Regions from separate parts of the Homo sapiens genome. Here region 2 is reported to be linked to region 1. The links are microRNA targets in miRTarBase. Many come from high-throughput screens and were not tested one by one. Region 1 holds a microRNA gene; the other region holds the end of a gene's coding sequence.
Evidence for each region. Region 1 holds the annotated microRNA hsa-miR-649 (AAACCUGUGUUGUUCAAGAGUC, at 3,084-3,105, shown strand). A microRNA usually pairs through its seed, bases 2 to 8, with sites in the 3' UTR of a target mRNA and lowers its output. Matches are read on the target gene's strand: a 7mer-m8 pairs with bases 2 to 8, a 7mer-A1 pairs with bases 2 to 7 and ends in A, and an 8mer does both.

Region 2: miRTarBase lists CKAP2 as a target of hsa-miR-649. Seed matches in the 3' UTR shown: 8mer at 876-883.

The regions. Positions count from the first base shown.
Region 1 is chr22:21,032,701-21,037,295 of GRCh38, reverse strand. MIR649 (microRNA 649) reads left to right here and starts at 3,024; the gene lies at 3,024-3,120.
Region 2 is chr13:52,474,541-52,478,540 of GRCh38, forward strand. It overlaps CKAP2 (cytoskeleton associated protein 2), which reads left to right. Exons shown (of 9, transcript NM_018204.5): 9 at 355-2,087. The coding sequence ends at 601. Among named protein-coding and RNA genes, the nearest start is that of CKAP2, 21 kb to the left of the region's middle.

The DNA of each region.
Region 1 (4,595 bases):
ACCATCCTGGCTAACACGGTGAAACCCCGTCTCTACCAAAAATACAAAAAAAAATTAGCCGGGCGTGGTGGCGGGTGCCTGTAGTCCCAGCTACGTGTGAGGCTGAGGCAGGAGAATGGCGTGAACCCAGGAGGCAGAGCTTGCAGTGAGCCGAGATCGTGCCACTGCACTCCAGCCTGGGCTACAGAGCGAGACTCCGTCTCAAAAAAAAAAAAAGAGTTCACTTTGGTAAGAATTCCTACCTGTGCCCGCTTTTATTTGTTCTCCCAGGATCCCATCTTTAGGCTTGAGAGGATCCCATCCTTGTCACCAGAAACTGTAGGGGTGGCAAAACTCCACTTCCATCCCTAGAGTCTCAGCTGGGCCCAAGAATTAAATTGACATAGGACAGGTTAACAGAAGAAAAGCACATAAATTTATTTATATGCTATTCTACATCTGATTTCTGTTCTTTAATCTTGCGAACAGAGTCCCTAAGGCTAGCCATTATATTTATTTATAAATAAGGGGTGCTGGAGTGCAGTGGTGAGATCACAGCTCATTGCAGCCTCAAACTCCTGGGCTCAAGCTATCCTCCCACCTCAGCCTCCTGAGTAGCTGGAACTGCAGGTACATGCCACCCACCACACCAATCTAATTAAAAAAAAAAAGTGTTGAACCGGGATCTCACTATATTGCCCAGACTGGTCTTGAACTCCTGGACTCAAGCAAGCCCCCCTCGGCCTCCCAAAGCACTGGGATCACAGGAGTGAGCCACCACACAGTCCCACAAATTTATTGAGTACAAGTTTTACATGGGTTGGGAACCCTCATAAGGACATTTGAAGACCCAAAGAAGAAGTTAGAGTCTGTTACTTATACACTGAATTGGACAAATAATAATAAGTTATGAAGAGGCAACTAAATTATATGGGGAGGCTTAAAAGATAACAGTGTTTTAACAAGGTCTGTATAGAATTCTCTCATTTCAACTTCTCATCCTTGAAGATAAGAATGTTGCATCTTTCACATGGCAACTTCATCTCCTGCATTTTAGAAATAGCACAGGCCTGGTTGGGTGGCTCACGCTTGTAATCCCAGCACATTGGGGAGGTTGAAGCAGGTGTATCACTTGAGGAAATGAGTTTGAGACTAACCTGGCCAACATGGGAAAACCCCATTTCTACTAAAAATACAAAATTTAGCCTGGTGTGACAGTGCACGCCTGCAGTCCCCAGCCATTCGGGAGGCTGAGACATGAGAATCGTTTGAATCCTGAAGGCAGAGGCTACAGTGAGCCAAGATCACTCCACTTCACTCCAGCCTGGGCGACAGAGTGAGACTCTGTCTCAAAAATAAAAAATAAAATTAAAACGAGCTATTCAGCCATGAAAAGTCATAGAGGAATCTCAAATGCATATTATTAAGGGAAAGAAGCCTGAAAAGGCAATATACTCTATAATCCCAACTATATAAGATTCTGCAAAAGTAAGACTAGACTATGGAGACAGGAAAAAGATCGGTGGTTGCCAGGTGTTAGCAGGGAGGGACAGGCAGAGCACAGAGGGTTTTTAGGGCAATGAAACTACTGTGTGTGATACAATAATGGTGTGTCTATGTGTCATTACACATTTGTCCAAACCCATAGAATGTACAACCGGAAGAATGAACCCTAATGTAAACTATAGACCTTGGGTGATAATGATGTGTCAATGTAGGTTAATCGATTGTAACAAATATGCCCCTTTGGTGCTGGATGTCAGTAGTGGGAGAGGGGGCTACACGTGTGTGGGAGCAGAAGTATATGGGAACTGTACTTTCTGCTCAATATTGCTGTGAACATAAAACTGCTCTGAAAACTCAACTTTTTTTTTTTTTAGATACAGGGTCTTGCTATGTTGCCCAGGCTGGAGTGAAGAGGCTATTCACAGGTATGATCAAGCTCACTGCAGCCTTGAGCCTCCTAGGCTCAAGCCATCCTCCCAACTCAGCCTTCTGAGTAACTGAGACTACAGGCGTGTACCACCATTCCCAGCTAATAAAGTCTATTTTTAAAAAATCACTTGACGATAAATGTAACTGTTTATTTGTGGACTGTCAATTCTATTCCGTTCATCTATGTGTCTACTCTTATGTCACCACCACAATCTTGATTACAGTCATTTTGCAATCAGTTTAGAAATCAGGAATTGTAAGTCCTCCAAAACTTTTTCAAAAGTATTTTGACTATTCTGGATCCCTTGCATTTCCACATGAATTTTGATGATTTTTGCAAAACAGGTAGTTGGGATTTCAATAGGAATTGCACTCAATCTATGCAACCCCTGAATCTGTAGACCAGTTTGGGGAATACTGCCATTTTATATTTAAAGTCTTACAGTCTATGAACATGGGATGTCTTTCCATTTATTTATGTTGCCTTTAATTTCTTTCTTTACTTTTTTCTTTTTTTTTTGAGACAGGGTCTGACTATCACCCAAGCTGGAGTGCAGTGGCACAAACATGCCTCACTGCAACCTCAACCTCCCAGGCTCAAGAAATCCTTCCACCTCAACACCACCCCCGACTCCCAGTAGCTGAGACCACAGGCACATGCCACCATGCCCATATAATTTTTTTACCTTTCCGTAGAGGTGAGGTCTCCCTATGTTACCCAGGCAAAATACCCAAGTATTTTGGCTATTCTGGATCCCTTGCATTTCCATATGAATTTTTTGTTTTTTGTTTTTTATTTTTTTTTGAGACAGAGTCTTGCTCTGTCACCCACGCTGGAGTGCAATGGCGCCATCTCAGCTCATTGCAACCTCTGCCTCCCGGGTTCAAGCGATTCTCCTGCCTCAGCCTCCCAAGTAGCTGCGATTACAGGCACCCACCACTTATTTTAATTTATTTATTTAGTAGTTTTGGAGACAGGGTCTTGCTTTGCCACCTAGGCTGAAGTGCAGTGACAGGATCATAGCTCACTGCAGCCTCAGACTCCTGGGTTCAAGTGATCCTCTCACCTCAGCCTCCCAAAGTGATGGGATTACCGGTGTGAGCCACTGGGCCTAGCCAAATACTGTATTTTTGATCGACATTTGGTTGAAAAATATCTATGTATTAGTAAACCTGTGTTGTTCAAGAGTCCACTGTGTTTTGCTGGGGATTTCTACATCTATATTCATAAGGGATTTTGGTCTGTGGTTTTCTTTTCTTGTGATGTCTTTGTTGAGTTTAGTGTCAGGGTAATCCTGGCCTTGCAGAATGAGTTAGAAAGTTTTTGTTTCCTGGTGGTTTGTCTTCACTGCATCACTGTGGGGTTGCTCTGTGTAGCTGTCTCACTCAGTAGTGAGGGAAATATCTCTGGAAATGTACAATTTACTGCATCAGCCCTGCTTAGTCTCACATATCCGTTGTATGTTGGTGCCTGTGGCAGAGGGTGTGGTGTCACACCTTCTCCAGGTAGATAAAAAGTCAACACTCCAAAACACTGGACACCAGCAATAAGGCAGTCATTGGTAAGGCCTTTGGGGAGCTCCCATTACAAATCTGCCTAACCCTCTGGCCTGAAGTGCCTAGACTTTTGTGGTGACATTTCAGGACAAGGGACGTCTGCTCAGGCAACACAGGGATGGGGTAAGGAAGCTACCATCCCACCGGAAGTGGGAGCCATCTGAGAAGTTCCTCAAGACAATACCAGCCAAATATTAGAAGGTATTGGCATTCTGGCCGAGGCAGAATGTTCCAAATTGGCACCATCTTGTCTGGGAGTCCATCATCCTGTCACCAGCCCAATAGGCTGGATAGGCTGCAGATGCTCCTAAGATTCCATTCCACAAACCACATGTAAGCCTGAACACATGTCTAGTATAGCGTTCTGGGGAGGCCAGGAGCCATGGTTCATGAATGTAATCACAGCCTTTTGGGAGGCCAAGAGTTCGAGACCAGCCCGGGCAGCATAGTGAGACCCAGTCTCTAAAAAAATTAAAATTAAAAAATTAGCCAGGTGTATTGTTGCATAGCTGCCTGCCTGGGGCGTGGGGCACTGGAATGCAGTACTCAGGACACAGTGGCTGTCGCTGATAAACACAAGTGGGGATCTGCTATTGGGGTCCCATAGGGCCCTCCCGGCCTGCCAGAGGTGCCTAGGCTAGGAAGGGCTGCCACTGGGGTCTGAGGAGCTCTACTCCCCCACAGGAGGGCTGCAGGCTGGTCCCAGAAGCTGCTTGCTTCCTTGCAGGACGTGGTAGCTGCAGGCTCAAAACAGCCAGAATGCATTCCCTCAATTCGCAGAACTCTCTCAAAAGGCTGCAGTCTCTTCCATTGTAAGAGTAGAGGTCAGGGACCGCCCCAGGCCACTCTGCCAGACCCATGTCTTCATCTAACTCACTGTGCCTGAAGCTCACATGACGGTGCTGTGGGGCCTGTCTGGGGCCCAGCTGGGTGGGGTTCATGTACTGGGGTGAGGGATCAAGAAGGGTGTCCGCTGCAGTAGAAAGAAGGTGGGCTGCGGACTTTCAGACGTGGCCCTTAACCTCCCCGAACTGACCTAGGCTAGTCAGTCAGCCGGCGGTCTGACCTTCTCCATCTGTGACTGAGTCACAGTCACAGGGCTTCCCTAGACCCCGGTGAGCTCC
Region 2 (4,000 bases), not on the chromosome of region 1:
CATTTCACCTCTTAAATACTGTATTTACTTTCCCTAACTATTGCCATTTTGAAAAAGAAAACTTTTATTTGAATTTACTTTAATCTGTGTGTTATTAATAACAGTAGGTTTTGGCTTTCAGGAATTAGCCAGTTCTACAGATACTCAGGTATCTACTGTATACAAGTTGTAATGACAAATTGAGAAAAGGATAAGTTTCTCACTTCGGTGAGCTTATAGTACCTCTCTAAAAGACAATTAAATGCTTTTACCTGCTTATAACATACAAGCTATATAGTATGGTACATATCATGAAAGTACAGAGTAAAAATGTTAACATGTTTTTGAACTCTGGAATATTGTTTTAATTTTCAGTGTGAAAAAAAAGGTGCAGTTTGATGGAACAAATTCCGCATTTAAAGAGCTGAAGTTTTTAACACCAGTGAGACGTTCTCGACGTCTTCAAGAGAAAACTTCTAAATTGCCAGATATGTTAAAAGATCATTATCCTTGTGTGTCTTCATTGGAACAGCTAACGGAGTTGGGAAGAGAAACTGATGCTTTTGTATGCCGCCCTAATGCAGCACTGTGCCGGGTGTACTATGAGGCTGATACAACATAAGAGAAATAAAGCTCTGTTAGGGAATGGGGTTTTTATTATTTGTGGGGTGTTTTGTTTTGAGTAGCTTTATATTGCTCTTAGGTCTGGAGTTGGCCATGTACCTATGTATCCTAAGCATTCACGGCAGTGAGCTCCTTTACTAACATTCATGTTATGGCAAGAGTTGTCCTCTACATTGGAAAGCTAATCCTACCTTGTCAGTTTCAACCAACTGAGTTTTTTCTTTAAGAAAGGTAAATTTTGTCAGCTAGTTTACTATGTTCCTTGAATATAAACAGGTTATAATACTACCCTGTTCACTTTACTAAATATAAGTACAGTAATGATGCATAATTAGAAAATGAGGTATTCTAGGTAAAATGTATGTTTGCCTTGACATGTTTTTAAAAGTTATGATGTACCTCCCTGCCTTTAAACAGAATACTTTTTTCTTTTTTTTGGCCTTTCTCAGATTAGTCAAAAATTCTATAGAATGACTCACTTCGAATACTAAGACACAGGAGGTTTAGCCTGCTTTCTTACCAAATTCATGTTACCCAGACTTGTGTTCTCTTGCGTCCCTTGGACTGCCTGTTGATTGATGGAAAGTGTCTGCACTGACACTTTTCGTCAGTAGTCTGTAGTTTCGTGGCCTCTTTTGATTATAACTGGGGTCACCAAGAAGGTTTACTTAATTAAATACCGCATTTCTAAGAGAAGATACTTTGTGTAAGAAAAGATGCCACATTTAGTGGTTTAACTTTTGTAACTTCACTTGATAGTTTTTAAGCAATTAGAATGGAGTTAGGGAAAGAACATATCATACTGAACAAATGTCATTCTAGTTTAGATAGCATTTCTAAGATAACTGATACTAATACTTGTTTTCTTCCCTATAACATAAAAAACTTCACTGTTAAGTCATGTCCCTTGAAACATGATAGTTACATACACAGTTTTCTCTCCACACATAAATAACACCACTAAAGTTGTTTTGTAAGGTTCCAAACTAATATGGCATATATCAACTCTACAGTTTCAAATAAATGACTTTTTAATTGTAAAAGATTAGTTGAAAAACTGTATGAATGTGAAGATCACATGCTTAGTCATTTTTATGTTCATTCCACTTTGTATATCTTTTCTATTTATTGACTTCTCATGTTCTAGAGAGTAGGACTTTTATTCCGTGTACCTGATATATATACAATTAAAATATCTGTGTAATTATGTTTTAATGAAGTTTATTTCAACAGATATTTTATGAAATGCAGTTTAACCACAGTGAATGAATTTTAGCTTTGCTTTTGAAATACATTGTAAGATTTGACTTGAGGTTTTTGACACTTAAGTACATGCTTAATGATATATTTTCAAAAGTCATCAGTCTACTTACATAAACTTTACCTAATTTTTTTCACTTTAACAAAAACATAACTATGCCCTTGTTTTTTCATACTTTGACCCAAAATATGCCATTTTGAAATAAAATTTAAGCTTTGATACACTCTCAGCTTTTTAATATCTGTACCATATAATTCATTTGTCTGTATAGCAGAGTTTGAAATGCCTCTGTTAGAGAACTCAAGATACAACTTTTATGTTTGGACAAGTTTTTAAGAGTGTTTTTTTTCCTCCTTTACCTGAGGGGAAAATCTGTCTCTAAATATTCCTAGTTCTAACATTCAACCAGAGGTCTAACCCCTTTTCTGGTGCTTAAGGACAGCTATGTTATCTCTCCCCTAGGTTTGTTCCAAGCTAAATGATGTGATACCGTGCATAAGCATCCAGTAGAGACATAACAGGGACCCCTCTTAAGGGCCCGCTTGGATCTTCCCGTGTATAGTAATAAAGGAAAAATCTTGAGTCTCTTCAAGGGAAATTCCAGGTAGCTACCTAGCTAGCCTCAAAAAAGTAAATTGAACATCCTGGAATAAGGAAAAAAATGTTTCGTTTCCTATAGTAATGAAAGAACATCTTGACGCTGAATTTTTTGGAAACCCAGATCCATACCAGATAAAAATGCCAACCACTGTCAAGTGGACCTCAGGTAAGGGGAAACAGGACTGAACTCTAAACCACCATTCTTGTCCGTCTCGGCCTCCCGAAGTGCTGGGATTACAGGCGTGAGCCACCGCACCCGGCCACAGGACTGTTGGTAACACTAAATGAGACAGTGTAAGTAAAGGGCCCCATGAGTGGCCCACCATCCTCTGAGCTTCCAATGCTATGTGGCCAACATTTTGTTTATTCCTAGATTCAACTTCCCTTTGCATTGTGACATTAGCTTTTTTGATAAATTCTACATATGTGTTTGTTTATTGTCTGTATCCCAACCAGTCAAAACCACCATGATATGCCTGTACTTGCTCTATTGAGAATAGATGTTCTTTCTTTCCAATTTATAGCAAAGATGGAGTCAGTGTAGGGGGTGAGTTGGTAACACCTGTTTCACAACTCTAGGGAGCAATATTCTCACGGACAAGAGTGAAAGATGGCCTCTGAGAGACTGTGCAACTTCACATCCTGGCTTTGTATCCTCCAACCTACACACCTATCTGTTTCTAAGCCTTTTTTTCCTACTTTTTCTTTACCTCTTCTACCTGTGCTTAGGAACTCATGCTTTCCCTTTAGCATCAAGCTTCTTGGAGAAGGAGAAGTTATCTACTCCATTGCTCCTCTTTTATTAGCAATTTTCTTCCTCTTTTCCATTCACTCTTCAATTAATTGCAGTCTAGCTTTTGCTTTCCCTAGATTGAAACACATTCCAGAAAAATCAGTTTAATTACATGGCCTTTGCACTTGCTCACTGAAACCTTTTATCACTCTATTACATTAGATTCATACCTCTCCCAACCCTAATTCCATATCCTCCTTACCTGATTTATTTTTCCTCAGAGCACTTATTCAATTAAATATTCACGTATTTATTTGCTCATTGTCTGTGTTCCCGACTAGAATCTAATCCTAGAGGGCAGGGATTTTCATTCCTTTTTCTTTTTTTGATATGCAATCTTGCTCTGTGGCCCAGGTTGGAGTGCAGTGGCATGATCTCGGCTCACTGCAAGCTCTGCCTCCCGGGTTCACGCCATTCTCCTGCCTCAGCCTCCTGAGTAGCTGGGACTACAGGCACCCACCACCATACCCGGCTAATTTTGGGTATTTTTAGCAGAGACGTGGTTTCACCGTGTTATCCAGGATGGTCTCGATCTCTTGAACTCATGATCTGCCCGCCTCGGTCTCCCAAAGTGCTGAGATTACAGGCGTGAGCCACCGCGCCCGGCCAGGATTTTTATTTTCTATTTTGTTCACTGCTTTATCCCCAGTGCCTTGAATAGGAGATGCACCTAATGGGTGCTTCATGCATATTCACTGACTTGGACAAATAAATGCATTTTCTTATCTCCAGATTCATTGTGT